Homo sapiens: one gene and its partners. The protein of the gene in region 1 purifies or fractionates together with the protein of each later gene. This does not show direct contact. Each region holds a gene or a part of one and is shown in the gene's direction. Other genes may lie near its edges. The genes, in order: PPP1CC, RPAP2, ADISSP, PLCL2, KIFBP, TOX4 and DNAAF10.

Region 1 (4,681 bases):
TCAGAACATGGAAGTCTTTCTGCTGGTGACTTTGCAGAGAAACTTAAAGGGTTCTTTTTTCTTTTCTTTTCTTTTTTTTTTTTTTTTTTTTTTTTGAGTCTTTCTTTGTCACCCAGGCTGGAGTGCAGTGGCAGGATCTCGGCCCACTGCTGCCTCCACCACCCAGGTTCAAGCGATTTCTCCTGCCTCAGCCTCAGTTGTTGAGTAGCTGGGACTACAGGCATGTACCACCATGCCCTGCTAATTTTTGTATTTTTGGTAGAGATGGGGTTTTACCATGTTGGCCAGGCTGGTCTCAAACTCCTGACCTCAGCTGATCCACCCACCTTGGCCTCCCAAAGTGCTGGGATTACAGGCGTTAGACACCGCATCCGGCCCAAAGGATTCTTGATAACATTTTTGTGGTTTATACTTTTTGCAGAAAAGAACTCAGTCGTTTATGGGAATGCTTAATGTTGGAAGTATTTACTGTTTTTTGTTTTGGTTTGAGTCTTATTTTCCTAAATCTGTCAAATATCATGAGGCTATTGATTTCACTGAAATGAATATGATGTGGCATATTGTTAAAATTATCACCTACTTTTTAACAGGATTATTTTAAAACAGCAAAATCTTCGTTGGCTTATTTTTATACCACTTGTGCCTTTCTTAGGTTCTGAAACTTCATTAGAATTCAGCTAGGGCTTTTTTAGTATATGCTATTTCTTTAATATGTTTTTATTTAAACAATTAAGGGGCCTTTATGTGGCAAGGAAAATACTTTTTTATTCCTTATAAATAATCTCAAACTTGTCTTAAATTTCCTTCCATAGTTTCCATCTTTGCTTTGCTTTTTGCCAGCAGCTAACTTTCAAAAGTTAGTATTGCTTATGAGAAAGAGCTGGTGTTGTAAATAATCACCAATGCTATTTTATTTATTTATATTTTTTGAGACAGGATCTCACTCTGTGGCCCAGGCTGGAGTGCAGTGGCATGATCTCGGCTCAATGCAGCATCTGTCTCCCGGGCTCAAGTGATCCTCCCATCTTAGCCTCCCGAGTAGCTGGGACTACAGGCGCACGCCACCATGTCCAGCTATATTTTGTATTTTTGGTAGAGACTCAATTTCACCATGTTGCCCAGGCTAGTCTCTAACTCCTGAGCTCAAGTGATCCTCCCACCTCGGCCTCCCAAAGTGCTGGGATTATAGGCCCAAGCCACCACATCTGGCTGCTATTCTTTTATAATTCAAATTTTTACCAGTTTGTTTTCAATAAAAATGTGTGGAAGTTTTTATTATTGCTCGTGTCAGTGATTTGCCAGAAAAATAGATCAGATACATTTCTACAGAGCAACCTTCGCTTTTAACAGTAATAATACGTTTTCCTGAATCTCCCTTTCTAGCCAGATAAAGAAATATTAATACTTCTACTGAAAAGTCACATCCTTAGGTCTAAGTTGGTGTTGCTTTTTTGTTGTTGTTTGTTTGTTTGTTTTGAGACGGAGTTTGTTTGTTTGTTTGTTTGTTTTGAGACAAAGTCTTATTCTTGTTCCCCAGGCTGGAGTGTGATGATGCGATCTGGGCTCACTGCAACCTGCCCCGTGGGTTCCAGCGATTCTCCTGCCTCAGCCTCCCGAGTAGCTGGGATTACAGGTGCCTGCCACCACGCCTGGCTAATTTTTGTATTTTTAGTAGAGACGGGGTTTCACCATGTTGGCCAGGCTGGTCTCGAACTCCTTACCTCAGGTGATCCGCCCGCTTCGGACTCCTAAAGTGCTGGGATTACTGGCATGAGCCACCGTGCCTGGCCGAGACGGAGTTTCTTTCTTGTTGCCCAGGATGGAGTGCAGTGGCACAATCTCGGCTCACTGCAACTTCCACCTCCCAGGTTCAAGTGATTCTCGTGCCTCAGCCTCCTGTGTAGCTGGGGTTACAGGCGTGCACCACCATGCCCAGCAAATTTTTGTATTTTTAGTAGAGATGGGGTTTCACCATGTTGGCCAGGCTGGTCTCGAACTCCTAACCTCAGGTCATCCACCCATCTCGGCCTCCCAAAGTGTTGGGATTACAGGCATGAGCCACCGTGCCCAACCTTCTCCTTTGGTTTTGAAGTTCAATGTAGAACAGATTCTTAATTGGGAATTAAGAATGCACCACTAGATGTAGCATCGCGGCCTCGTGTCCTTAAGCTCTGTGACCTTGGACTAAGTCACTGTAAAATGGGAGATGACAGTGCCTGACTTCCTAGGATCGTTGACAGGATTGAATGGCAATATAAAGCCCTTAGTACAGTGCCTAGTGGATAAGTGCTCAGTAAATGTTAACTACAACGAGTAAATAATTCTGTTTGATGGACATTGAAAATAGTGAAGTGGGCCAGGCACGGTGGCGCACGCCTATAATCCCAGCTACTTGGGAGGCTGAGGCAGGAGAATCACTTGAACCCAGGAGGTGGAGGTTGCAGTGAGCCACGATCGCATCACTGCACTCCAGCCTGGCAACAGAGTGAGACTCCATCTCAAAAAAAGAAAGAAAAAAATAGTGAAGTGAATTTGTATGCTTTTGGCTGATATGGCAACTTTTTTTTTTTTTTTTTTTTTCTTGAGATGGAGTCTCACTCTGTCGCCCAGGCTGGAGTGCAGTTGCACGATCTCAGCTCACTGCAACCTCCACCTCCCGGGTTCAAGCGATTCTTCTGCCTCAGCCTCCGCAGTAACCAGCCACCACGCCCAGCCTGATATGACAACTTTTAAGAACTCTCCAGTGTTCACTTGGACTGCCAAGCCCCATTTGAAATCTCTGTTAGACAATTCAACGTGAAATTTAAGAGTAATTCTAGATTTTCATACTTTGAAAAATACTCCAGTAAAGCCTGGTAAGCAAGTGGCCCTATTGTTTTATAATTTTATAGTGCAGAAACAGGCTTTTTGCTCATCAAAAGTATATAGTCTGGGCTGGGCACGGTGGCTCACACCTGTAATCCTGGCACTTTGGGCGCCGAGGCAGTGGATCACCTGAGGTCGGGAGTTCGAGACCAGCCTGACCAATATGGAGAAACCCCATCTGTACTAAAAGTATAAAATTAGCTGGATGTGGTGGCGCATGCCTGTAATCCCAGGTACTCGGGAGGCTGAGGCAGGATAATTGCTTGAACCCGGGAGACGGAGGTTGCAGTGAGCCGAGATCGTGCCATTGCACTCCAGCCTGGGCAACAAGAGTGAAACTCCGTCTCTAAATAAATAAATATATAGTCTGGAATATATGTTTAATTCTAATGCCACCAGTCAACACTACTTAAAGACTTATCCAGATTTCAGTCATGCAACAAATTTTGAGCACCTGCTGTGTGCTGGCTATGGCTGGTGTACACTACAGAGCAGGACTGCTGCTGTGGGTTTACATTCTACCAGTGGGTCCAGATGAGCCGGCAGAAGCAAACTGGCAAGTATAAAACAAATACAAGCATGGTTGAGGGGGTGTGGTGGGTAGTGACCTGATGTTGAGAGAGCCTTTCAAAAAGCATGCAGCAAGCTTGTGAGGGGAGAGGAGATGGATGAGAGAAGCTTTTCTCCAGGGTGAAGTGTGGTATCTGAGCAGAGGCCTGAAGTCTGAGCAGTTGTATGATAACTGATGGAAGATGGTTTTGGCAGTTTCTATCTTTATATAACTTTTTTCTTTCTGCTAATTTTAGGGAATTTAAGAAGCTTTCAGACCATGTTTGTTGATGTTTTTCATAAGCACCATTCTTTAAATACAAATCTTTATTTTCTCTGGAAAAGCTGCATCTAATCTTAATATTAAGAGTAATTTTTAAGGCCAGGTGCAGTGGCTCATGCCTGTAATCCCGGCACTTGGGGGGCCAGAGCAAGAGGATCACTTGAGCCTGGAAGGTTGAGGCTGCAGTAAGCCATGATCATGCCACTGCACTCCAGCCTGGGCACCAGGCTTCTTCAAAAAAGAAGAATTTTTAAATTGTTGTTAGTATTGCTTTTGCTTTTTACTGATCTCTGAATGTCCCCACCCAGAGGACAAACAGAAACAGAATAAAGGAGTTAAAACAAATATAAACTATGTTCAAAGGTGACAGTGGAGAGCGTCCAAAGCCAAAAAAAAAAATTGTTAGCAACATTGATTTCATCTGATGGCATTGACTAACTGCAATAGCATTCATAAAACAAAGCTTGCCATTATATGGTATGAGCTATTTATCGCAGAAATACTCTCCTAGAAGACTTAGAGTCAGCTATTCATTCATAAGTGTGGGACTCTGCTGAAAAAAATTCACGTTGAAACCAGAAGCTTCTAGGATTTCCTTCCTAGCCAAAAATAAAGCTTCCTGCTGGGCAGTCTGCCCAAGTTTTTGGTTAACTTATGGTGAAATCACTAATGATTGGCATTTTCTGGCCAATGAAGTGGGGATCCCATCTTTCACCGGGAGTATTTCCTGAGTTCTAACTCTGTATGTGTGTCTAGAGAGAAAAAAAATTACTTACGAAAAAAACATTTTTGTTGCTCAGTTGCTGTTTTATTAAATATGCATCTGTTTCATATCTTTCCTCGAAGACTATTATTACTATGCTTTTATTGCTTCTTGTTGTATAATATTTTTATCAGAACGAGACTTAGTTACATATTTTGGGGTCCAAAAGTGAACTTTATAACTGTAAAATTAAGGTACATTTAGCAGTTCCGTGCTACTTT
Region 2 (4,681 bases), on another chromosome or scaffold:
TTTACAGTTCCACTACTACTATATGGGAGTTTCCTTGATTCCATGTCCTCCCTGGTACTTGATATAGTTAGTTTTAGCCATTCTGGTAGTATTGGTTTATGATTATAATACATTACTGTGATGATGAATAAATTCAGCACTATTTTATTTGCTTATTGACCACTTGGATAATCTCTTAGGTCAGGTCTGCAGATCTCTCAGCCATGGATACCAGCACCTGCTCTGGTGGAGATGGCAGGGGGGTGAAATGGATTCTGTGAGGATCCTTGCTTTTGGTTGTTTAATGTACTATTTTTGTGCTGGTTAGCCTCCTGCCAGAAGGTGGCACTTTCAAGAGAGCATCAGTTGTGGTAGTATAGGGAGGATCAGGCTGTGGGTAGGGCCGTAGAACTCCCAAGAATATATGCCCTTTGTCTTCAGCTACCGGAGTGGGTAGGGAAGGACCGTCATGGGGGCAGGGCTATGTGCGTCTGAACTCAAGACTCCTTGGGCAGGGCTTGCTGTGGCTGTTGTGGGGGATGGGAGTGTGGTTCCCAGGTCAGTGGAGCTATTCCAGGAAGATTATGGCTGCCTCTGCTGTGTCATGCAGGTTGTCAGGGAAGTGGGGGAAAGCTGGTGGCAGGCCTCACCCAGCTCCCATGCAACCCAAAAGACCAGTTTCACTCCCACCATGTCCCTTCAAACAGCACCAAGTTTGTTTACAGGCAGTGGGCAGGAAGGGCTGAGAACTTGCCCCAGGCTACCAGCCTCTCACCTGTGAGAACAAGTAGGGCTTTCACATCTCCCAGCCTGTGGAGTCTGCACACCAGATTCACACCCTCCCTTGAGTTCTGGCCAGGAGACTTCCTGTTCATTTGGAATTGTTACAAAGTTCAGCTGGCCTATCATATGGTCTATCTCGGAGACTGTTCCATGTGCTGATGAATAGAATGTATATCCTGCTGTTGTTGGGTAGAATGTTCTGTAAATATCTGTTAAATCCATTTGTTCTAGGGTATAATCAAAATTATATCAAATATTCTCTCAGACCACAGTGGAATTTTTTAATTTCTACTTAGATTTCATTGTTGACCTAGTGATCATTCAGGAACAGGTCTTGATGACCTGTCTAGTGCTGTCAGTGGAGTACTGAAGTCCCCCACTATTATTGTGTTGCTTTCTATCTCATTTCCTAGGTCTCGTAGTAACTGTTTTATAAATTTGGGAGCTCCAGGTTTAGATGCATATTTATTTAGGATTGTCATATTTTCCTATTGGACTAGTCCTTTTATCATTGTATAATGTCCCTCTTTGTCTTTTTAAACTGCTGTTGCTTTAAAGTTTGTTTTGTCTGATATAAGAATAGCTACTTCTCACTTTTGGTGTCCATTTGCATGGAATATGTTTTTCCACCCTTTACCTTAAGTTTATGTGAATCCTTATGTGTCAGGTGAGTCCCTTGAAAAGCAGATACTTGGTTGGTGAATTCGTATTAATTTTGCCATTCTGTATTTTTTAAGTGGAGCATTTAGGCCATTTACATTCAATGTTAGTATTGAGATGTGAGGTACTATTCTATTCATCGTGCTATTTGTTGCCTGAACAGCTTTTTTTTTTTCATTGTCTTATTGTTTTATAGGTCCTGTGAGATTTATGCTTTAAAGAGATTCTATTTTGGTATTATTTCCAGGATTTGTTTCAAGATTTATCGCTCCTTTAGCAGTTCTTGTAGTGCTGACTTGGTAGTGGTGAATTCTCTCAGAATTTGTTTGTCTGAAAAAGACTATCTTTCCTTCATTTATGAACCTTAGTTTCGCTGGATACAAAATTCTTGGCTGACAGTTGTTTTGTTTAAGGAGGCTAAAGATAGGACTCCAATGTCTTCTAGCTTATAGGGTTTCTGCTGAGAAATCTGCTGTTAATCTGATAGGCTTTCCTTTATAAGTTATCTGATGCTTTTGCCTCACTGCTCTTAAGATTCTTTCCTTCATCTTGACTTTCGATAACCTGATGACTATGTGCCGGGGCAATGATCTTTTTATGATGAGTTTCCCAGGTGTTCTTTGAGCTTCTTGTATTTGGATGTGTAGGTCTCTAGCAAGGCTGGAGAAGTTTTCCTTGATTATTCCCTCAAATATGTTTTCCAAACTTTTAGATTTCTCTTCTTTCTCAGGAACACCAATTATTCTTAGGTTTGTTTGTTTGACATAATCCCAAACTTCTTGGAGCCTTTGTTCATTTTTTAAATTCTTTTTTCTTTGTTGGACTGGGTTAATTCAAAAGCCTTGTCTTGAAGCTCTGAAGTTCTTCTACTTGCTCAATTTTATTGCTGAGACTTTCCAGTGCATTTGCATTTCTCTAAGTATGTCCTTCATTTCCCAAAGTTGTGATAGTTTTTTATTTATGCTATCTATTTCACTGGAGATTTTTCCATTCATATCCTGTATGATTTGTTTGATTTCTTTAAGTTGGGCCTCACCTTTCTCTGGTGCCTCCTTGATTAGCTTAATAATTGACCTTCTGAATCCTTTTTCTGGCAATTCTGAGATTTTGTCTTGGTTTGGATCCATTGCTGGTGAGCTAGTATGATGTTTTGGGTTGTTAAAGATCCTTGTTTTGTCATATTACTAGAATTGTTTTTCTGGTTCCTTCTCATTTGGGTAGACTGTGAGAAGGAAGATCTGGGACTCAAGGGCTGCTGTTTAGATTCTTTTGTCCCACAGGGTGCTCCCTTGATTTGGTGCTCTCCTCCTTCCCCTAGGGATGGGGCTTCCTGAGAGCCAAACTGCAGTGATTGTTATTGTTCTTGTGGATCTAGCCACCCAGCAGAGCTACCAGGCTTCTGGCGGGTACTAGGGAGTGTCTGCAAAGGGTCCTGTGATGTGATCCGTCTTCAGCTGTGGATACCAGCACCTGCTCCAGTGGAGGTACAGGGGAGTGAAGTGGACTCTGTGAGGGTCCTTAATTGTATTTTTTTTAAGTGCGCTGGTTTTGTGTTGGTTGGCCTTCAGCCAGGAGGTGGTGCTTTCAAGAGTGCATCAGCTGCAGTAGGATAGGGAGGATACAAGCTTGCTCTGGGGTCAGGCAGTGGGTAGGGCCATAGAGCTCCCAAGAGATTAAGTCCTTTGTCTTCGGCTACCAGGGCCAGTAGAGAAAGACCATCAGGTGGGGGTACCATTGTGTGATTCCCAGGCCAATGGAGTTATGTTCCCAGGTGGATTATGGCTGACTCTGCTGCATCACACAGGTCACTAGGGAAGTGGGGGAAAGCTGGCAACCACAGGCCTCACCCAGCTTCCACACAGCCTGCAGCCTAAAAGGCCAGACTCACTCCCACCGTGCCCCCACAACAGCACCAAGTTTATTTCCAGGCAGCTGATGAGCAGGGCTGAGAACTTGCCCCAGGCTACAGGCCTCCCAGCTGAGAAAGCAAGCTGACTCACAGTTCCTTGCCTTTTCTGGTATGTTTCTGCGGTAGTTCTTGGAGCAAAAGTTCATGATGGGAGTCTCCACATGCCGCTCTGTCTGACCAAGTGGGAACTGCAAGTTAGTCCTGCCTCCTATCTGCTATTTTTTCCCAGACCTAACATTTATTTTTAATATTAAACCAACTTTGCATTCTTATAATAAACTCAACTTGATTGAGCTATAATAGCCTTTTTATATAATACTGGATTTGGTCCTCCTAATATTTGCCTTAGAATTTTTGCACATATTTTCAGAATGAGTGACATTAGCGTATGAATTGGTCATGGTCTCATCATAAATCACATGGTACAAATTAAGTAATCTGAGGAAAGTTTAATTATAGGACTGTTTTCCAAAGCGTGAAAATGTGGTCAGAATGAAGGAAACCAAAGGAATGATACACTAATCATAGTTTGAGAGCCCTCACCACCCCTAGACCTCAAGGAAAAAGGTAGGAGTGGACCACAAGGTCTTGTACCAAGGAAGTGCTGCTTGTAGTGGACCAAGTGGGAATGACTCTTCTGCACCGTCCAGTTTCTTATTCTTCATTGGCAAAACTGAGATAAAAGCCAGAGAGCAAGGAAGCCCATTGATGCAGCCCATACAGATCAGCCTTCTGAAGTACAAAGACAGGTGGAAAAGGGTGAAAATTGTTCAGAATGAAGATACCTTGCACTGCCTATAATTTTCCTTTCTTGTAATATCGTTATCAGGTTTTGGTTGTAATCATTTGGTAAAACAAGTTGGGAAATGTTCCCTCCATTTCTGGAAGAATGTGTCTAAAATTAATGTTAGTTCTTTAAATGTTTAGAAGATCACTCATTGAACTATCTTTTCCTCTGATTTTCTTTGTGGGTTGTCAATTTTTTTTTTTTTTTTTTTTTTTTTTTGAGATGGAATCTTCTCTGTTGCCCAGTCTGGAGTGCAATGGTGCCATCTTGGCTCACTGCAAACTCCACCTCCTGGGTTCGAGCGATTTTCCTGCCTCAGCCTCCCAAGTAGCTGGGATTACAGGCACCCGTGCCATGCCTGCCTAACTTTTGTATTTTTAGTAGAAACACAGTTTCACCATGTTGGCCAGGCCAGGTTGGTCTCGAACTCGTGAGCTCAAGTGATCTGCCTGCCTCAGCCTCCCAAAGTGCTGGGATTATAGGTGTGAACCACCACGCCTGGCCTGTGGGTAGTCAATTTTTAAAAACTTTTTGTTATGGAAATTTTCAGAAACACACAAAGA
Region 3 (4,681 bases), on another chromosome or scaffold:
CTGCAGAGAGTAGAGAGATAGACCAGTGTGTGACTGGGAGAAGTCACATACCTCCATTGCAAACTTGTGCCATTCCTCTTAAACACCAGGTCCTCGGCCAGGCATGGTGGCTCACACCTGTAATCCCAACACTTTGGGAGGCCGAAGTGAGCGGATTGCTTGAGGTCAGGAGTTCGAGACCAGCCTGGCCAACATGGTGAAACCCTGTCTCTACTAAAAATACAAAAATTAGCTAGGCGTGGTGGCGGGCGCCTGTAGTCCCAGCTACTCGGGATGCTGAGGTGGGAGAGTCGCTCGAACCCAGGAGGCAGATGTTGCAGTTAGCCGAGATCGTGCCATTGCATCCCAGCCTGGGTGACAAGAGTGAAACTCCGTCTCAGAAAAAAAAAAAAAACAAAAACCATACCAGGTCCTCTGTCAGTGACGCTTGGGCGCCTGTGAGTATCTGCTTCCTGTCAACCTTCCCCTCTGGTTTAGCATCCACTGGTTCTTGTTGCCTCCAGCATTTGTTCCTTTAGGGGTTGCAGAATGACTTAGCATTTGGTCATTTCTTTGTTATTTATTAGCAAGAATTCTTTCCGAAAGAAGAGCTTTCCATCAACCACCAGGGCAATTTGGTTACAAGAAAGGCCAAGAGACAGGCTGAATTCTTCCTCTTTAATCCTCAGCTTTCAGAGTAAAGAGGGCACTGCTACCGTCAGTGGTGACAAATGAGGGCTTTTGAGGGCTTGGGTTTGTTTGTTTTGCTTTCTCTCTTCTTTTCTAATAATCTCTGTGAATGCACTGCTTTTATGTGTTCCATCTGTTTCCATCAGTTGCACTCATTATTCTTTTTGATGCTCAGATGGTCCCAGCTCGGCCCATTGGAGGCTTCCTGGGGCGCCTCTCACTGCCCCTGTGCTGAGGCTGCCGTTGGGGAGCTGAGGCGGAGGCAGGCCTGAGACTCAGGGCAGGGTCTGAATGGGGTTCAGGTGGGGGCACACCCCCTCCACAGGCATCTGTTTTGCATATGGCCCTGACCGATCACCAGGAGGGAAAGCTCTAAGGGCACGCTTACTTTATGTGGTCCCCTGTTCTTGCCCACCATCGAGCACCCTGTTGCCTCTGACCGCACCCAGCTGCATTGCTTGTGTGACCTGAATAAGGTAGCTCCAGGCCCAGCCTTTGGGGTCAGCAGCACCAGAACTGGTCCCTGGAAAATACCAATAAAGTCCTCCTTTCCAGGCTGCCCCTCCTGCCAGTCTCTGGGGGTGCTGGGGATAGGAGTCCTATGCTGTTGCTTTGGCACCTAGAAGCTGCAGCTCAGCACATGCTGGCAGGACCCTGAGTCACTGGGGTATCAGGAAGGGGTGAGGGCTCTTGGTGAATGTGGGCAGTCGGTAGAGGGTGGGCAGAAGCCCCCGTGCTAGAGAGTACAGGCACCACTTGGGCTGCTGAGAGCGGTAGGGGTTTGAGTCCTTCCTAAAGGGAGCTCCTCTGGTGTCCCTGAGCCATGGGTCCATGAGTGGCCCTGACCCCTGCCCTCCCCACTCCCTATCCTTCAGGCTCCCGCTGGTGTCCCTGGAGCATGGGAGGCTGCTGAGCGTGAGTGGCGGTGTCTGGCAGGAGCTGCGTGGCAGGGAGGGCGTCCATGGCTGCAGCCAACAAGGGTAAGTGCCTTCCTGGCGTGGTAGGACTTGCACAAGCTCTTCCGGTGGGCCCTGGTAGGAGGGCCATTGCTGCAGGTAGGGCCCGCACCACCTGTGTGTGTGTGTGTGCATGTGTGAGTGCGTGTGTGCTGGTGTGCGAATGTGATTGGGACTATGTCAGTGTTTGTGCCAGGTTCTGGGGCTCACGCAAGCCCTAGCAGGACCCCTGCAGAGCCCTGCTGACTCCTTAGGCTGGTCTGTGGAGGTGTGTGCTCTTGTGTCCCTGCCGTTCCACTGTGGGGGTTGGGGGAGCCGAGGGGCTTATGGTGAGCACTGAGACTGGTGATGTGGGAGGGCCACAGCAGGCTGTGGAAGGGAGTTTGGGTTTCTTTCAGAGTCCAGAAGGGATAAGGGAGGGTTTTAGGCCAGGGTGATCTGGTGAGATTTGAGGGTTCTGTGGGGCTCACCAGGGATTGTGGATGTGCCAGGCTGGTCCCCTGGGCCTCCGAGTATCCAAGAGGCCGGCTCAAAGCTGGATCAGGTCCTCCCGCCAAGAGGACCCTGGGCAGGGCTCTTGGTGGGAGGGCCTAGGGGCCAGGGGTCAGAGAGGACTAGGGCCGTGCTCTCGGCCTCTACAGCCTGAGCATTCATCCAGTCCAGGCCTTCAGCTCGGCTCCCGCCTACCCTGCCTGTCTCATCCGTCTGCCCTTTCTGGCCTTGGAGAACCCGACCCAGCTCAGAGACAGCTGAGGGCCTTGATGGTGGGCTAGACAGAGGAAGGAAGGGGGTCTTGAGGTGGGTCTGGAAGCTTCCTTGGATTCTCTCTTCTTGCTGCCAGGGGCCAGTGAGGTTTACTGGCAGCTGCAGCCTCGCCCAGGTGGCCTGAGTGTGTTTTTTGATCCCCCCTGTTTCTGCCACCCCAGGCAGATCCCCCAGAGCCTGTTCCTGTCCCTGCCCTTTCAGGTTTGGGTCATGAGGATGGGCAGGCAGGGGCCTCATGCACTGACACAGCTTAGGGGTAGGCCCCAGGGATGGGGAGCTTTGCACTGTGAAGGAGAGCACTGGGCAGGGTATCCAGAGGACTGGGCTGAGTCCCACGCTGCCCTGGCTTGGTGGGAGTCTGGAAGACTGTCCCTTCCTGGCTCTGGCACCAGCCCCACCCCCTCCAAGCAAGGGTCATATTAGCCAGTCCCTGAGTCCCCCCACGCTCACTCTCAGGGGATGGATTTTTGTGGGAGGGGCAGGTCGGGGCCGGCGGGGAGGCCTCAAGCCTCATGATCCTAGTGTCCATCTAGCCCTGAAAAGAGCCCAGCCAGTGGGAGCTGGATGATGTCAAGGGCAGTCTTGGGGGTGACGAGGGGACAAGGGGGAGGAGTTTCCTGGGGACAGGGAAAGCCCTCAGAGCCCTCTCCCACTCTTCCTAGGCAACAAGCCCAGAGTCCGGAGTATCCGCTTTGCGGCAGGCCACGATGCAGAAGGATCCCACAGCCACGTCCACTTTGATGAGAAGCTGCATGACTCGGTGGTCATGGTCACCCAGGAGAGTGACAGCAGCTTTCTGGTCAAGGTACATGCACACCTACCCCATCAGCAGCTTCTTCCCCTCCCCGGCTCTGCCTGGCTTCTGGGTGCCTATCCCCGTTCCTCTCAGCCGGGCTTATAGGCATGTCTGTGCCTTTCCCTGTGCCTTGGTTGCCCCATCTGTCAGATGGGAGGCAGTGAGATTTCAATGAGATGAGAGCATTTAGAATGTCATCCAGATCAAGATGAGCAGAGCCACTGCTGTCATCTGCTTCACCCAGACAATAGCAATGGAAGGCAGTGTCGTGGCTGTGGTGCCAGTGGCCTGAGTTCAGGTCTAGGCCAGCCATTCTGGCTCTGTGACCTTGGGAAGGTCACCTGAGTTTCTTTTCTCTCAAGTGGAGACAATCACATCCCCTAGAGTTGGTGTGAGAATGGAAGAATGTATGTATGTGATACAGGTGTGAAGCTAACTATGGCAATAACAAGGTGCAACTTTTTTTTTAACCCTTCTTTGCCAAATCTCTGGCTCAGTTAGGCTCTTTGAAGTAGTATTATCACCCCCTGTTTTCTGCTTGGTGGAGCTGGATTGGGGAAAATGGAGACTGAGGCCTTCAGGTTGGTCAATAAATCAGGGGTCCAGAGTTGAACAGGAGTGCCCTTGGGTCGGGGGAGGTCTGGCCCATTGAGATGGCCCTGAGTGGGGGGTCTGCTGCGCTGCTCAAAAGGGGCCCAGGTTTAGCCTGGCCAATGGGTCGAAACCCGTCTCTACTAAAAATACAAAAGTTAGCTGAGCGTGGTGGCGCACGCCTGTAGTCCCAGCTACTTGGGAGGCTGAGGCAGAAGAATTGCTTGAACCCAGGAGGCTGAGGTTGCAGTGAGCTGAGATTGTGCCACTGCACTCCAGCCTGGGCAACAGAAAGACTCTGTCTCAAACAAACAAACAAAAAAGAACCTGGGGGGCCCAGGTTTGTATCCATTTCTGTCCAACTCTGAAGTTCCCACTCTTTGTCCTACAGCTGACAGCTTCCCCAAGAGAGTAAATGGAACAAACCAACACTTAAAAATAGCTCTCTCCCCTCATTGCAAAATCCACTCATGTCTTAATAGACATGAGAAAATTTGGAAGACAGAGAAAATATGAAGAAATTTAAAAGTACCCACAGTCATACTATCCCAAAATAACCATGGTTAATATTCTGATGTGTGTTATTTCAGCTTTTTTTTTTCTTTTTGAGACGGAGTCTTGCTGTCTCCAGGCTGGAGTACAGTGGCGCCATCTCAGCTCACTGCAACCTCCAGCTCCCAGGTTCAAGCAATTCTCCTGCCTCAGCCTCCAGAGTAGCTGGGATTACAGGCGCGTGCCACCACTCTCAGCTAATTTTTTATATTTTTAGTAGAGACGGGGTTTCACTCTGTTGGCCAGGATGGTCTCGATCTCCTGACCTCGTGATCCGTCCGTGTCGGCCTCCCAAAGTGCTGGGATTACAGGCGTGAGCCACCACACCTGGCTTATTCCAGCTTTTTAAAAT
Region 4 (5,131 bases), on another chromosome or scaffold:
GTATTTGATGTTGCTTCAGGGGCAAGGGCGAGTATGTATATGTACGTAAATCCATTTCCTCAGAGGCTCCTTGGCAGTCTGTTACAACACCACGCTAATGAAAGCCAGGTCTTTAAGTTCACCCCGCCTCTGGACTATTAGTTTCTCCTTTGCGCCCTGCGGGGACTGCATTCCTGGAAATGAAAGCACACGAGTTGGGGAAGGGCTGGGGTGCCAGAGAGGGTAGGAAGCTGGAGCCCACGGAGCCTGGGATGGAGAGGTGGGTGGGCCCAGGCCTGGGGCGTGGGGTGGCGGTGGAAGGTCTGGGGTCTCACCCTTCGGAGTTTTGAGTCTTGTCTGGCTCCAGGGAGGGAGATCCAGGGGAGATATTTACGAACGGAAGCCACACGATCAGCTTGGACTTTTAGGCCAGTCACTCCGCCTTAAGTGGGTGCGTGAGAACCAGAAGAGGGACTGGCTGTAGCGCTGCAAGTGAGATCCTGTCCCAAAAGATGAGCCTGACTTAGGCTGGGCCCCGCAGGCCGGCAGGGCCAGCCGGCATCCCTGGTAGGGGAATCGGGAAGGTCTCAATGATAAATCTGTGTGTGGAGACTCAGAGGGCACGAAATAGGCTCTGCTGATGTCCTCTGCCCCTCATAGCCTGCCAGCCACCCCAGCCTTCACCCCTGCCTCAGCATCCTTCCAACTAGTTGAATCAATCAGGAGCCCAAGGGAAAGGAATTGGTCCCAGTGTATGAAATGAGTCTGACCTACTGGGGAAGTCAGAGAGGAGTGTCCCGAACTGGGTGGGAAGGAAACGAGTTCCGTGCGCGGGGCTGGGGCAGGAGTGAGGCGCAGCGGCCGAGATCCTGAGCCCCGGGACCCTTGTTCCGGGCCCCGAGGCCTACTTGGTAGTTGCCCCTCGGGGTTCCGGGTGGGTGACTGACAGTTGCAGCAGCTCTGGGGAGGCGAAGGATAGGCAATGACTTGGGGCTCCCGTCCACTCGGCTTTGAGGTCCCCGCGGCCCGATGACCCGGCCTCGGTGACAGCAGCCGCGACGGCGGCAATCTCGACAGGGAGCTAGGCGGCTCATGGTGGGTCAGGGGGCGACCGAGGAGGGACCACGCGGCCTGTAGGGGGCAGCGCCGAGCTCGGGAGGAGACAGCAGCCGGCGGGTGGGGTGGGTCTGGGCTGCCCCCTCCGGGAGCTGCCCCGGGGCCGCACGGCGATTGTCATACCCGGCCGCCCCTGCCCGCCGTGGGCTTCCTCTCGGCGCCGCGGGCCTTAACGGGGCTCTGAGGGGACGTGACAGAGCTCGGCACGCGGCAGCCTCTGGGGAGTTAGGGTCCGGAGAGACCCACGCGTCGCCCCCCGCCCGCCCGGGGCCGGGAGATCCTCGGGAGCCGCCTCCGCGTGTCCAGAGAGTGTCGGGGCGGCCGCCACTTCCCCTCGCCCTTCGCCGGAGGTGGGCGCCTTTTCCTGCGTGGCGGGTGCTCCGACCCCAGTTGCTCTGAGCCCCGGGGAAGCGCGCCCCGAGCCCCTGACGTGGGCGCCCCGTTACCTCGGGGTGGGTGCCTGGGGCCCCTGAGGTGGGCGCGGGTTGCCCCGGGGTGGGCGCCCGGCCCGCGCGGGTTATTTTTGGCGCCCGCAGAGGCGCGTGTGTTGGGGCGTGTTTTCCTTCCCCAGGTGCCGAGAGCCGGGGCTCCGCCGGCGCCGGAGCTGACTCGTCTCTCTCTTCTTTCCCCTGCAGGAATCTTCCGATAATTCTGCCGCCGCGACTTTAACCGTGCGCAAGGCGAGAGCTCGAAACAAACATCACATCTAAATTAAAAAAAAAAAAAAGCGGAAGAAGCGGCCGAGGCGGCGGCGGGAGGAGAGGAGGAGGGGCCGCGCGCGGCGGCCCGAGGCGGCGGCGGGGACGCGGGGACGCGAGGACGCGGCTTTGTGCAGGCGGGTCGCGGGGCGCCCATGGCGGAGTGCGGCCGGGGGGGCGCCGCCGGCGGGGCCCTGCCCACCTCCCCGGGCCCGGCCCTCGGCGCCAAGGGCGCCCTGAAAGCCGGAGTGGGGGAAGGCGGTGGCGGGGGAGGTCGCCTCGGCCACGGGCGGGCGCGCTATGACAGCGGCGGGGTTTCCAACGGAGACTGCAGCCTCGGCGTGTCCGGGGACGAAGCCCGGGCTAGCCCTACCAGGGGACCCCGCGGCGTTGCGCTCGCCCCGACCCCCAGCGCGGTCGTCTGTACCCTCCCCCGGGAGAGCAAGCCGGGCGGCCTGCCCCGCCGGAGCAGCATCATCAAGGTAGGTGGGAGAAGGGCGCTCATCGCCCACCCTCAGCCGTCCTTGGATTCTATTTTCTCCCTGGGGGAGTGGTGGTGGAAGGAGGAAGCCCACTGCTAACAGGAACCACTGGAGCATGGGTGCTTGGGGTGGTTGAGCGGGGATTGGATGCAAATGGCATGTGGAAAGAATGGAGAGGTGATCCCTAATGTGCAGGGGGAGCTGTGCTCAGACATCCTCAGTTGAACTTGGGGCTGTCACCTCTTCCAGGATTGGTCTGGCATTAGGGCCTTGTACCTGCCGGGGTAGGGCATACTCTTATGTGTAGCCTAGTCTGGTTAACAGACTCCCTGTAAGATTTCTATTGTATCTTAAACACAGATAGGGATTATGTGAAATGTGAGAACATTTTCTTAAAAATCCCAGGCGGCGAACAGAGGGTGAACAGAGATTATTTAATAGGGTTCTTCTGATCCGTATACAGTTAGTTGGCTCTTACAAATGTTTACACTTCGAGGGTGCAAAATCTCCTAATATCCGGTCACTCAGTCACAAAGAAAAATAGAGTAGATTTCTGAACATAAATGCAGATTTCCGCTTTCTTAGGCTCAAAAGCTCAGAGATTACAGTTCCACACGATTTAATCTTTTTCCTTGCTGCAGTAGGCAGGCCTCGAGTACTGTGGAAGTTCTTTTGGGCAGTTTGCTTGGTTTTGCTTGCACAGTGTTAGCGGAAGAAAGCCAGCGATTGTTTTGAGCATTTTAAACTCAAGAAGTAATATTAGGAACTCCCGAGTTTGTGTTAGTTTCATTCTAATGTTACATTTTGGTTCGCAATGTAAAAATATTTTTCATGACATGAAGTGCAAAAAAAAATAGTTGATGAGCTAAGAAGAGCAGAGCCTTAGGCAAGACCAGCTCATTCGGCTCGCTCAAGTTTGGAGCAAATGAAAACATTGCTTTCTGAAAATCAAGGAGTTATCAGGACAGGGAGCAGCAAAGCAAATTGACAGGCTGCACCCACCCTTCCTGTGGCTGATAACTGGTGGGAGGGCAGAACGTGCCACAGTAAAGAGAGTTGGCAGTGGTGGTATCTGAAATTTTATTGGACCTACAGAAATCTTCCAAGTACTGTGAAAATGTCTGATGGTGTTATCAACTTATGCAGTAATCTAGTGAAATATACCATCTTGCTACTCTATGTAAGAGGCAATTGTGAAACTGCATTTCCCTTTGTCATCTGTTTGCGCAGTTTATGTCTGGGCAAGGACACAATTTGAAGGGTTTGGAGATGAAGTGTATTAACTACCTGCAGCACACACGTAGAGATAAACTAAGGAAAGTAAAGTGTCTTTTTGCTGCATACATAGCTTTTAGTGACTTACGTTTTCTTTTACTCTGTAGCTTATGTTTCCATGGAAGTTGCTTTCAACTGTGCATGATAATCAATCCTATTGACAGAGTTAGGTGACATTTCTGTTTTTATTTGTCATAAAATATTTGTGGTGATTTTGCATTGTGGTGTTAATAAAATTTGAGGTGAAAATTCCAAAGAAGATACCAGCCTACCTAATTTTAACCCCTTTCTTTTAATTGTTTTGAATACTTGTTTTTGCATTAAAAAATCAAACTTTATTAGTGTCCATAGTGAGATTCATAGTGTAACTTACTGAATTACAAAAACATTTGTTTTAATTTTACATTACTGGGCGATAAGCAAGAAGGATGATTTGTTAGTATTTCTGATATATGGAATTGGGAACTTGTCAATAGATACCATTTCTTAATTGAAGGCTCTAGAAGCACATGGGGGAAATGATTAATGTTCAAAAATCACTGATTTTAGAAATGATATTGATACTTATGTTGAATTCTGAAACTTTTAAGGATATTTTGTCATTTTTCTTCTTTGTAAAGAAAGCATTTGGCTTCTTGTTCACCAGTGTAACCCTAGATATAAAGTGCCAGGAATGTAGTAGCAGCTCAATAAATTGCTTATTGAATGAATGGAGAAAGTACATGTTTTCTCTGAGTTCTGTTAATTTATAAAACAATTGGTTTTGGATTTACCAGTCCCATATTTTGTTCATTGTATTGTACCTCCAAAGAAGGCTTGACATACTCCTTTTTCTTGCCTCTGTTTTCACTTTGCATTTTCTTAAAACTTTCGAAAATTATGGAAGTAGTGTTGAAAGTTGATCAATACTGGGTTATAGGAAAGAGAGGATGCTATATTTAAATAGGTAACTACTTGGTATATTTCCCTTTGAATTGGTGCCTTGAAGCATCAAGATTTTTGGAATGTATTGTGGTATTTTCTAAAGATAACTTCCAGCATCAGGACAATATCCTAATAGAAAACAAAGTCTTTAACATCAAATTTCATAAAGCAACAAATACTGCACAGATAGTTTTGTCATGTGAATGGCAGAAATTATGTTTCACTTTTGTTTAAAAAAAAAAAGAATAAAAAGCTAAAGCAGAAGCCCATGTGAAAAAGCAATAGTGACATCTTTCCTTGGTTTCCTTATTTTTTTTAATATAAGGGATGAATGCAGTCAGGTGGTCTCTGAGTAGAGGCAGGAGTAGATTAGTAAGCAAGGTGATAATTGGGGACTTGAGGGAATAGCAGGGAGTGAATGCTACCTGGGGAACTGAGGCCGGTATTTATGGGGTTGTATTAGTTGAAATGCTGGGCTTCTGAACTGTGCCTCTCTCCTAGCTTTCATCTTCATTACAGTCTTGACAGCCCTCTTTGTTGGAGATCCTTAAATCAGAGGGAGAATAATGGCCTAAATGTGCTATAAGGTGGGCAAAGAAAGGGGGACTATTGCTAAAGTGCAGGGCATATGCAGAAATACACTGTAGGCTGACCCGA
Region 5 (2,340 bases), on another chromosome or scaffold:
GAATCACTTGAGCCCAGGAGGCAGAAGTTGCAGTGAGCCAAGACTGCACCACTGCACTCCAGCCTGGGTAACAAAACAAAAGAACTACCTGAGACTGGGTAATTTATGAAGAAAAGAGGTTAATTGACTCACAGTTCCTCAGGCTTAACAGGAAGCATGACTAGGAGCCCTCAGGAAACTTAGAATCATGGCGGAAGGCGAAAGAGAAGCAAGCATGTCTTACCATGGCAAGCAGGAGAGAGAGAGAGGGCAAAGGGGGAAATGCCACACACTTCAAAACCATCAGATCTCATGAGAGAGCTCACTCATTACCACAAGAACAGCAAGGAGGAAATCTGCCCCCAGTGATCCAGTCACCTCCCACCAGGTCCCTCCTCCAATTTAATGTGAGATTTGGCCAGGGACACAAATCCAAACCATATCAGTGGTAAATAATATAGAACCTTGTGAAACTACTAAACGAAAGAAAACCAAACAAACAAACCTCAACACATCAGAAGCATAGGTCTTGAAAAGATGAAGATAATTTTAGAGGTCAGAGGGTAAAGAGGAGGCATATTAAGGAAAGACAGGAAGTAGGGAGAATAACTGTGGGGCTTTATGTGTAGAGAATTTGGAGCCAGGAAGAGCTGTCAAGTTTATTCTGGTCAGGTAAAGAAAGCTGGAAAAGGAGGGTTGCAGGGACTATTGGAGCAAAACAGTAGGCTAATTTAAATAAGCATCCTAGAGAGAACATGTAAGTAAACAAGCAGCCCAAGAAGGAAGGAAGTATACAAGATTTAGAGACTTATGATCTACATTTGAAGTAATTGTGTCAAGCAAATCGCACTATGATTTGACCCTTACCTTTCATTTAGTTGATGTTTCTAGTCTGGGAACTTAAAACTTCATCACTTGGTTAGTTTAAACTCACATATTTGCCATGCTACTAAACTACTCAGATTTTCCTTAAACCCAGTTTTGTTTTTTGAGATGGGGTTTCTGTCACCCGGGCTGGAGTGCAGTGGCATGATCTCCACTCACTGCATCCTCCACCTCCCTGGCTCAAGCAGTCCTCCTACATCAGCCTGCCAAGTAACTGGGACAACAGGTGTGTGCCACTGTGCCCGGCTAATTCTTTGTATTTTTGTTAGAGACGATGTTTTACCATGTTGCCCAGGCTGGTCTTGAACTCTTGAGCTCAAGCGATCCACCCACGTCGGCCTCCCAAAGTGCTGGGATTACAGGTGTGAGCCACTGCGCTCACCCCTGACTTTATTTTTTAACCTTAACTTCATCCTTTATCATCTGTATATTTATCTGAAAGACCTTCTTCAGTTCAAGCTTTAAGACATACATAAATTTATTCAATTAAGTATTTATTTATGCCAACCCTGTGCTAGTCATTGGCCAAGGATACTATGATGAACAAAAATGAACCTAGCCTTTAACTTCATGTAAAAGTACAATTTTGCTAAGTTCCACAAAGGAGAGACACATGATATGAGAAGGCACAATAGGAGGAAATAACAAGCAAGCTCTGGGGATGAGTAAGTAGGAGTTACCTAGACTGAAGAAAAGAAGGCACACCATGTCAAGGAGCTGAAGCAACATGTTTAGAAGTTCTGTGGCGTAAGGGAGGATGATATCAGAAGGGATGGAGCAAAGGCTGTGAGGTTGGAGCTGAGGGAGAGGGAGTGTGATATAAGCTAAAGTTAGAGTTAGAAAGGGGCTGGAGCAATCAAGGCTTTGAAGCATTGTTGTCTTCATCTTCTGAGCATTTGGAAACCTTGAAGGGTTTGTGGAAAGATCATTGGTGAGACAGTGTCAAGTGAAAAGAAGAAAAGGCCTTGGGATCTATTATTTATTTTTATTGGCCAAGAAGAGCTTACCCTATTTCTTAACCACCTTAGTTATTCTTTCTTTTTTTATTTGCCCCCCCCCACCCCCAAGAGGTAGAGGAGATAAAACTTTAACTAGGAAGGTAGATTTAACTCTTTGTTCACTTTGATGTCTTTAAGAGACCTAGAGCATTTCTGTCTGATATATTTCACTAAATAACTAATAGCATAAACATGGTAGCATTAATCTTAATGGCATCCTTGTGAAACATTTTTATGATGTAGATTACAGTCTTTTTGTTTGTTTGTTTGTTTCTTGAGATGGAGTCTTGCACTGTCACCCAGGCTGGAGTGCTGTGGCGCAATCTCCACTTACTGCAACCTCTGCCTCCTGGGTTCAAGCGATTCTCCTGCCTCAGCCTCTCAAGTAGCTGGGATTACAGGCGCCTGCCACCATGCCTGGCTAATTTTTTATATTTTTAGTAGAGACAGAGTTTCACTATGTTGGCCAGGCTGGTCT
Region 6 (3,919 bases), on another chromosome or scaffold:
TCCTCCACTCCAGGCCATGCAACAGCCTCCACCTCAGAAAGTTCGAATCAATTTACAGCAACAGCCTCCTCCTCTGCAGATCAAGAGTGTGCCTCTACCCACTTTGAAAATGCAGACTACCTTAGTCCCACCAACTGTGGAAAGTAGTCCTGAGCGGCCTATGAACAACAGCCCTGAGGCCCATACAGTGGAGGCACCTTCTCCTGAGACTATCTGTGAGATGATCACAGATGTAGTTCCTGAGGTGAGCCTTTGTTTTTAAGTCTTTAGTCTAGTGGAAATGTATAAAAATGTTTTTGGTTGACCCAATAACAGTGGGGGTTGCTACTAGCATTTAATGCCCAGCAACCAGGAGCACAAAACATCCTGCAGATGGGAGTTCCTTGCAGCAGTTGACTTCTCTTACCCAAGGTACTCATACTGTTTTTTTTTTGTTTGTTTGTTTTTGAGATGGAGTTTCACTCATTGCCCAGGCTGGAGTGCAATGGTGCGATCTCGGCTCACTGCAACCTCTACCTCCTGGGTTCAAGAGATTCTCCTGCCTCAGCCTCCCGAGTGGCTGGGATTACAGGCATGTGCCACCATGTCCGGCTAATTTTGTATTTTTAGTAGAGACGGTTTCTCCATGTTGGTCAGGCTGGTCTCGAACTCCTGATCTCAGGTGATCTGCCTGCCTCGGCCTCCCAAAGTGCTGGGATTACAGGTGTGAGCCACTGCACCCGCCCTGTTTTGTTTTGTTTTGTTTTGTTTTTCTTGAGACGGAGTCTCGCTCTGTTGCCTGGGCTGGAGTGCAGTGGTGTAATCTTGGCTCACTGCAATCTCCACCTCCTAGTTCAAGTGATTCTCCTGCCTCAGCCTCCCGAGTAGCTGGGATTACAGGCGCCCACCACTACACCCAGCTAATTTTTTGTATTTTTATTAGAGACAGAGTTTCACCATGTTCATTGGGCTGGTCTTGAACTCCTGACCTCGTGATTCGCCCGCTTCGGCCTCCCAGAGTGCAGGGATTACAGGCGTGAGCCACCGTGTGCCCCATAGTGTTTTTAGTGAGATACATTAAGACAGTCTTCTGCCCCAGACCACTCCTTAACTAAGCAGAGGTCACTAGTTCAACTGGACAGGATATAGCCTAAACAGTTATTATTCAGAGTTGTTACCCAAGGATCCTAAACTTTGGACATGCAAAGCTTTTCATTTCTCCTAGGTCTTAAGTTCCTTAGCTTGATGTTTTAAATGTGTGTGGGGCAGGGGGTATAGGCAGAAAAATTTAATTGGTTCATACCGTTATTTTTTAAAACAGACATAAATATGGCCAGGTGTGGTGGCTCACGCCTGTAATCCCAGCACTTTGGGAGGCCAAGGCAGGTGGATCACCTGAGGTCAGGAGTTCAGGACCAGCCTGGCCAACATGGTGAAACCCTGTTTCTACTAACAATACAAAAAATTAGCTGGGGCTGGAAGCGGTGGCTCACGCCTGTAATCCCAGCACTTTGGGAGGCCGAGGTGGGCGGATCACGAGGTCAGGAGATCGAGACCATCCTGGCTAACACGGTGAAAACCCGTCTCTACTAAAAAATACAAAAAAAATTAGCCGGGCATGGTGGCAGGCGCCTGTAGTCCCAGCTACTCTGGAGGCTGAGGCAGGAGAATGGCGGGAACCCAGGAGGCAGAGCTTGCAGTGAGCTGAAATCGCACCACTGCACTCTAGCCTGGGAGACAGAGAGAGACTCCGTCTCAAAAAAAAAAAAAAAAAAAATTAGCTGGGCACGGTGATGGGCGCCTGTAATCCCAGCTACTTGGGAGGCTGAGGCAGGAGAATCGCTTGAACCCGGGAGGCAGAGGTTGCAGTGAGCTGAGATTGTGCCACAGCACTCCAGCCTGGGCAACAGAGCAAGACTCCGTCTCAAAAAAAAACAAAAAACACTACCTCTCTATTCCCACTGCTTGACTAGCCAGGCTTAACAGGGAAAAAAAAGCATTAGCACATGGCCACCTTTCTCCTGATGGGAAGAATCTTCCACCATTCTGCTTGGCAAAGTTCTGAAGCTGGACTATAGAGGGGAGACCAAGAACTCACCTTCTTCTGCAGTTTTGCCCCCCAGTGTGAGGAATTCTAATACCTGTTGCTTCATTGGTTTCTACAGATAATTTAGCTAACTAGCTAGCTAGGCAGGGAGCAATCTAATCCACCTTGGTACTCTTCTTCTTCTCACAGGTTGAGTCTCCTTCTCAGATGGATGTTGAATTGGTGAGTGGGTCTCCTGTGGCACTCTCACCCCAGCCTCGATGTGTGAGGTCTGGTTGTGAGAACCCTCCCATTGTGAGTAAGGACTGGGACAATGAATACTGCAGCAATGAGTGTGTGGTGAAGCACTGCAGGTGAGCTTACAGTTCTCCCTTTTATAATTCAGCTACTGGTCAATTCTACTGGGAAACATAGGAATCTTGAGCATAAAATCAGCATCTCAGTGTCACCTTACCTTAGGTAGAGTAGGTTGCTGTATCTGGTCTACTAGAAAAGCTCCCCTGCTTAAGAGCTTACATTTGCCACATAAGCCAAAGATGATGTAATCAGCAGTTCACATTTTTCAGTTACCACATACCTCTCTTATGTATGCTCTTTAAAAATATAATACATTAAGCTGTTAGTGTTTGCAAATATTAGCTTTTCAATTCTTGGTGCAAATCAGACTACTTAGGGAACTAGAATTTGGGGAGAAATGGTAAGTGGAAAGTAACACATAATAATTTGCAATTTGTGAAGGAAATGGGGAGATGGTTGGAATATTTTACCCCTCTCCCCAAATTTTCCTGGGAATTTCCTATAGCTGTAGGACAAGGCATTTCTATTTCCTATTTCAAAAACTCTGCAGTAAATTAGCATTGCCTCTACTTCTGACTTTTAAGCCCACTGTTCTTATATTTTCAAGGTGATACTATCTCACCATAATGCTGTAGGAAATTATCTGGGAACCTATTTGTTTAAGACAGATAAAAAATCCAGCTGGGCCATACAGTGAAACCCCATCTCTACTAAAAATACAAAAATTAGCCGGGCATGGTGGCAGGCACCTGTAGTCCTGGCTACTCAGGAGGCTGAAGCAGGAGAATCTCTTGAACCTGGGAGGTGGAGGTTGCAGTGAGCCAAGAAGATCACGCCACTGCACTCCAGCCTGGGCAACAGCGAGACTCCATCTCAAAAAAAAAAAAAAAAAGATAAAAAGAATGTAGCGGCCGGGCGCGGTGGCTCACGCTTGTAATCCCAGCACTTTGGGAGGCCAAAGCGGGCGATTCACGGGGTCAGGAGATCAAGACCATCCTGGCTAACACAGTGAAACCCTGTCCCCACTAAAAATACAAAAAATTGGCCGGGCATGGTGGTGGGCACCTGTAGTCCCAGCTACTCGGGAGGCTAAGGCAGGAGAATGGCGTGAACCCATGAGGTCCGTCTCAAAAAAAAAAATGTATCTAGGCTGTAATTCTATTTCAGTTTGTGTATAATTCTGTTTGTGTATGTCTTTTTCTCTCTTAGGGATGTATTCTTGGCCTGGGTAGCCTCTAGAAATTCAAACACAGTGGTGTTTGTGAAATAGTCCTTCCTGTTCTCCAAGCCAGTGAAGAGTTATCTGCTGGGAAAGTGTCCAAGAGCCTGTTTTTGAAACACAAGCTGGGCTTCTGGTAGTGCCTCATCACAACCCATGATGGCTGTTCATGTTTCACCCCTTTTCTTCCTTCAGCAGAGGCCAGGCTATGGAGCAGGGCCACTGAATTTGCTGTAATCTGGAGATGCTTTTTACTTTCAACCATAAGCGGTAATAGCAGAGGAAAGGGTGAAGGGAGTCTGGGCAAGCAAAGCATAGAGATGGTGGGGTGGTGGTGGGGTTGAAGAAACTTGTTGGTATAATTGTCATAGGACTTG
Region 7 (4,681 bases), on another chromosome or scaffold:
GACTACAGGCGCACGCCACCACGCCTGGCTAATTTTTGTATTTTTAGTAGAGACAGGGTTTCACCATGTAGGTCAGGCTGGTCTTGATCTCCTGACTTCGTGATCCACCTGCCTTGGCCTCCCAAAGTGCTGGGATTACAGGCATAAGCCACCGCGCCTGGCTGGAAAAAAATTTTTATGGGAAAAGTTAAAAGATAAATGATTGTTGGAGTGCTTTCACATTATCTGACCATTTTAAAGCTGTTTTACTTAGTATAAAAGAGCCTCCTGAGTAATACTGGTGAGACTACCAATAATAAGTATTCTCTGTTTTCAGGTGTGTAGCTTGGAGTTTGACAGAAAAGACATAAGTATGAATAAGTTAGTAGCCACATCTCTGGAAGGAAAGTTCCATGTTTTTGACATGAGAACACAGCATCCAACCAAAGGTTTTGCCTCTGTTTCAGAAAAGGTAAATATGAGGGAAATGTCTTTCTATGAAGAAGAATGATAGCTTGGTTTAGACTGATAAGTAGAATTAGTCACCAAGGTTTCTTCCAGGTCTTTATGTGAAGGGAGCTATTTTTGATATATTCCTGTGAGATCTTGACAAGTTTTTCTGTGCAAAGAGTACTTCCCCAAAGTTTATCAACTTTAGACTTCTTGATTATAATAAAGATCTCAGGTAGGAATCTTATTTTGTAGTTTAGGAGCAATTAGAAGAAACCTAGCTGATATTAGGAATTTGATCAACAAAACCCAGCCTGGTGTTTCCTAATAAGTATATAATATTTGTGCTAATACCTGGTTATATATTTTTCAAAATAAACTATATGTACATGATGTCATTTCATTACACTTTGTTTTATATTCCAGTTTGCTATATTAAATGAAATTATTTGAATCACTGAGTACTGTGATTATAGTAAATGTTCAAAAATATTTACTTACTTAACTTTGCCTTGCATTTGAGGTAGCTGAGAGGGAAATGCGGTATTATGGCGTTAGACCAATAGATGAGGAAAGCAGGGCAAAGGGAAAATACTGGTTTAAAAAAAAGATAGTTTCTGGACTGGGGGGATTACAGAAAATTCATGCAGAAAGGTCCTGTCATTCACAAGAAATGGATTGGAAATGTGATTTGAACTTCCTCAAGTATAAAAAGAAAGAAAGATCAGTTACAGATTCCTTGTTTCCATAAGATTAAAATATACAAGTTGCTCAGGAAGTGAGAACTTACTCCGTTGCTTCTCTCTCTCCTGTGGATTCAGTAGGATTTCTTGAACCTTTCTATTTTGTCTCATTATTATTATTGTGTGTAAATTATTGTCACTTCCTTATGAAAACCAAATTCTTAACAAGATAGCTATAAATTATAATATTGGTTTGCTTTTGTCATTTCAGAATATATTAAGTATCTATCAACAACATAAATCACTTTACTAAACTGTTCCATGTATAATTTGCAACACATATTTCATTATCTATACATAATAGTGTCATCTCTGGTTTTTTGTTTTGTTTGTTTGGCTTTTTTTTTTTTTTTTTTTCTGGAGACAGAATCTTGCCCTCTTACCCAGGCTGGTGTGCAGTGGCATGATTATGGCTCACTGCAGTCTCAAACTCCTGGGCTCAAGTGATCCTCCTGCCTCAGCCTCCCAAGTAGCTGGGAGTACAGGCACACGCCACCATATCTGGCTAATTAGATTTTTTTTTTTTCATAGAGTCAGAGTCTTGCTGTGTTGCCCAGTCTGGACTTGAAACCTGACCTCAAGTGATCCTCCTGCCTCAGCCTCCCAAAGTGCTGGGATTATGGGCGTGAGCCACTATACCTGGCCCAGTTTTTTAAAATTATATTTAGTTAATCCAGTAATTGCTAAATCTGCCAAATAGAAGACTCTGGTGTATTTTAAGAGGTCATTTCCCCTCTTGCTTTTTGTGTTTTTCTCAACTTCCTGAAGAAGAAGAGAAGTTTAAGCTACAAAATAAAATGTTTCGACAGCTTGAACCTAATCACTGAGAGACTGTTACACACTCAAAATGTGTGTTTTGAGATATGAGTCTTTATCTGCTAATGGTAATTCTCTCAAAAGACTATTGAAATCAAAGGTCAAGACTAATCACTCACTAAAATGTGGTGTACCACGATAGCCAGCCCCACTGCTTCTACAAAGCAGCAGTCATTCATTCCCTCCCGCCTCCTTTCTCTCTCTCCCTCTGTCTCTCTCTCTCTCCTAAGTTCCCCCCAGTTAATGCAGTGGCGCCGGGATGGATTTACTGGCTGCTTTTGAGGTGCTAACAACCTGTTAACCTTCCAGTTGCTGGTTTTTAATCTTTTAGTCTAATGTGAATGATAAAGACCTTAGCTTATTATGACCATAAACATTGTCTGTAAGTCCTCATGGTCCTTATTTTGAAGACTGGACAGGTAAATGGCAATAAATTGAAAATAAGGCTCTGGGAGCTGTTAGTTAAATTTCGGTCTATAAATTTTAGTTAAAATTCAGTCTATGTACTTATTGCTGAGTTTTGCTGTGAACCTCAAACTGCTCTCAGAACTAAAGTGTATTTTTTTAATTCAGTCCACATTTTTCGTATATATAAACAAAAGTATATGTTTTTATATTTTGAGTGTTTTCCCCCTCAGAATGAACTAGAGGTATTTAAATATGTAAAATCTATTTTCATAAGTATTTGATACTATAAACTTAAATGGATTTTAATACCTGTCTTTTTAAAAATCCAGTAGAACTTTGTTTCATAAAGCAATAAAGAAAAATGATGCTTTTTCTAATTTCTTATGTGTTCCTATAAATCTCTATAGCCATTATAAAGAGATGTGCCAGAAAATAACCTTAATTACTTTTATAACCATTGAAATTATAGTTGTAAGAGTTTTTTATTTGCAGCGTTTCTCTTCCAGGGCACCATTTAGCATATAAACCAGTTGTATGCCTCTTGTTCTATTTAGGCTCATAAATCTACTGTGTGGCAGGTCCGACACCTGCCGCAGAACAGGGAGCTCTTTCTGACAGCTGGAGGCGCCGGCGGCCTTCACCTCTGGAAGTAGTAAGTCTGCCAGTGCACACTGCTCCTTTTAAAGTTACCTGTGGGTGTAAAGTAGGATTAGATTGAACTTTTTTTTCTTTTTTTTCCTGCTTTGACTTAGTTCATTTTGATATGATTTAAAATTTCATGGTGTTACATAACTTGTTTTCTAAGCATTTTGTATGAATATACTTTACACTTAGTAGAGTGTACACTAATCTTCTTTTGATACATTTTAGTATATCATTTTAGTTGTGTCTTCTAAGTATGAAAAAGTTGGCCCAAGACTTTTATCAGATACTATCTTGAAGTGATTAGAACACTCACTGCCTCTAAAAGATGGGGAAAGGGTTCCTTGCCTAAATTTAGATAACATCATTGTGATAGACCCCAACAGAGCCTGAGGCTGCTGATTGGTCTCCAGGAAAGATCTTATCACTGAATTTGCTTTCTGCATATCTAGGCAGGGTGAGTTACAATGAAAGCTTTTACTATGCACACCACTTTCTGAATCCCAAGGGCGCTAACATCACAGATACTAGATCATTTAAAAGGTCTGATATCATTGCTCAGGGTTGGCCTGTGAAAAGGAAACAAAACAAAACAAAACAAAAATTAAAGGTCTGATAAAAATTGTGAGTTAATGGTATTTCTGAATACTTTATTAGCTAAGCAATATGTACTTGGAGGGGAAAAATTATATCTTTCTTAAACATCACTCAGGGAAAAAACAGCAAGCCCATAAATGAAGGATATTTCAAAAATAAAGTTTCATTAATAATGTAAGAAGAAAAACACCATCCTCAATATATCTGGGACTTTCACATTTATAAAATTCTTCTCTATTAGCTCCTTTGAGAAGCTGGAAGGGGTTCTGAAAAACAGGGCTACAGTTGGAAAGTACTTGTTAAAGTACTGTGTGCAGGGATACCGCTGACAAAAAGCAGATCGAATGCTTTATCTTATATTTTCTGACAAAGTCTTGCTCTGTCACCCAGGCTGGAGTGCAGTGGCATGATCTCGTCTCACCGCAGACTCCACCTCCAGGTTCAAGGGGTTCTCCTGCCTCAGCCTCCCGAGTAACTAGGATTACAGGTGCCCGCCACGACGCCTGGCTAATTTTTGTATTTTTAGTAGAGACGGGGTTTCACCATGTTGGCCAGGCTGATCTCGAACTCCTGACCTCAGGTGATTCACCTGCCTCGGCCTCCCACAGTATTGGAATTATGGGTGTGAGCCACTGCACCCAGCCAGAGTGAACACTTTAGATCGAAGCAGTATGATTATGGCAAAACCGGGTCTCTACTAAAAATACAAGAACTAGCCGGGCGTGGTGGCACACGTCCCAGCTACTTAGGAGGCTGAGGCACGAGAATTGCCTGAATCTGGGAGGTGGAGGTCTCAGTGAGTCGAGATCGCACCACTGCACTCCAACCTGGGTGACAGAGTGAGACAGAGCGACAGAGACTTTTTCTGTCTCAACAAACAAACAAACAAACAAACAACCAATATGGTTTCTGAGTGAAAAGCAGAGGAAAAGTTTGAGTCGTTCTGGGAGAATGTGGGGTAGAGAGATCACTTGCTACTTTCCCTTCTTCTAGCACCTCTGCCTGTTGTTCTTCCCTGATTCTTCCATCCCGGTCTCCTCCCCACG

The links.
Region 2: the proteins of PPP1CC (region 1) and RPAP2 purify together in Homo sapiens (affinity purification with mass spectrometry; 4 studies listed by BioGRID and IntAct, with this or other methods). This does not show direct contact.
Region 3: the proteins of PPP1CC (region 1) and ADISSP purify together in Homo sapiens (affinity purification with mass spectrometry; 7 studies listed by BioGRID and IntAct, with this or other methods). This does not show direct contact.
Region 4: the proteins of PPP1CC (region 1) and PLCL2 purify together in Homo sapiens (affinity purification with mass spectrometry; 5 studies listed by BioGRID and IntAct, with this or other methods). This does not show direct contact.
Region 5: the proteins of PPP1CC (region 1) and KIFBP purify together in Homo sapiens (affinity purification with mass spectrometry; 5 studies listed by BioGRID and IntAct, with this or other methods). This does not show direct contact.
Region 6: the proteins of PPP1CC (region 1) and TOX4 purify together in Homo sapiens (affinity purification with mass spectrometry; 4 studies listed by BioGRID and IntAct, with this or other methods). This does not show direct contact.
Region 7: the proteins of PPP1CC (region 1) and DNAAF10 purify together in Homo sapiens (affinity purification with mass spectrometry; 9 studies listed by BioGRID and IntAct, with this or other methods). This does not show direct contact.

What each region holds. Positions count from the first base shown.
Region 1 is NC_000012.12:110,732,892-110,737,572, reverse strand, and holds part of PPP1CC (serine/threonine-protein phosphatase PP1-gamma catalytic subunit), read left to right. Parts: intron 1-4,681. UniProt on the Homo sapiens protein: Protein phosphatase that associates with over 200 regulatory proteins to form highly specific holoenzymes which dephosphorylate hundreds of biological targets.
Region 2 is NC_000001.11:92,326,130-92,330,810, forward strand, and holds part of RPAP2 (putative RNA polymerase II subunit B1 CTD phosphatase RPAP2), read left to right. Parts: intron 1-4,681.
Region 3 is NC_000020.11:3,757,050-3,761,730, reverse strand, and holds part of ADISSP (adipose-secreted signaling protein), read left to right. Parts: intron 1-1,544; 5' UTR 1,545-1,630; coding exon 1,631-1,649; coding exon of another isoform or gene 1,650-1,724; intron 1,725-3,052; coding exon 3,053-3,195; intron 3,196-4,681. UniProt on the Homo sapiens protein: Adipocyte-secreted protein (adipokine) that acts as a key regulator for white adipose tissue (WAT) thermogenesis and glucose homeostasis at least in part through activation of protein kinase A (PKA).
Region 4 is NC_000003.12:16,883,092-16,888,222, forward strand, and holds the start of PLCL2 (inactive phospholipase C-like protein 2), read left to right. Parts: upstream 1-1,863; 5' UTR 1,864-1,948; coding exon 1,949-2,275; intron 2,276-5,131. UniProt on the Homo sapiens protein: May play an role in the regulation of Ins(1,4,5)P3 around the endoplasmic reticulum.
Region 5 is NC_000010.11:69,012,803-69,015,142, forward strand, and holds part of KIFBP (KIF-binding protein), read left to right. Parts: intron 1-2,340. UniProt on the Homo sapiens protein: Activator of KIF1B plus-end-directed microtubule motor activity. Required for organization of axonal microtubules, and axonal outgrowth and maintenance during peripheral and central nervous system development.
Region 6 is NC_000014.9:21,493,014-21,496,932, forward strand, and holds part of TOX4 (TOX high mobility group box family member 4), read left to right. Parts: coding exon 1-244; intron 245-2,215; coding exon 2,216-2,379; intron 2,380-3,532; coding exon 3,533-3,593; 3' UTR 3,594-3,919. UniProt on the Homo sapiens protein: Transcription factor that modulates cell fate reprogramming from the somatic state to the pluripotent and neuronal fate. In liver, controls the expression of hormone-regulated gluconeogenic genes such as G6PC1 and PCK1.
Region 7 is NC_000002.12:68,133,069-68,137,749, reverse strand, and holds part of DNAAF10 (dynein axonemal assembly factor 10), read left to right. Parts: intron 1-316; coding exon 317-451; intron 452-2,950; coding exon 2,951-3,048; coding exon of another isoform or gene 3,049-3,049; exon of another isoform or gene 3,050-3,666; intron 3,667-4,681. UniProt on the Homo sapiens protein: Key assembly factor specifically required for the stability of axonemal dynein heavy chains in cytoplasm.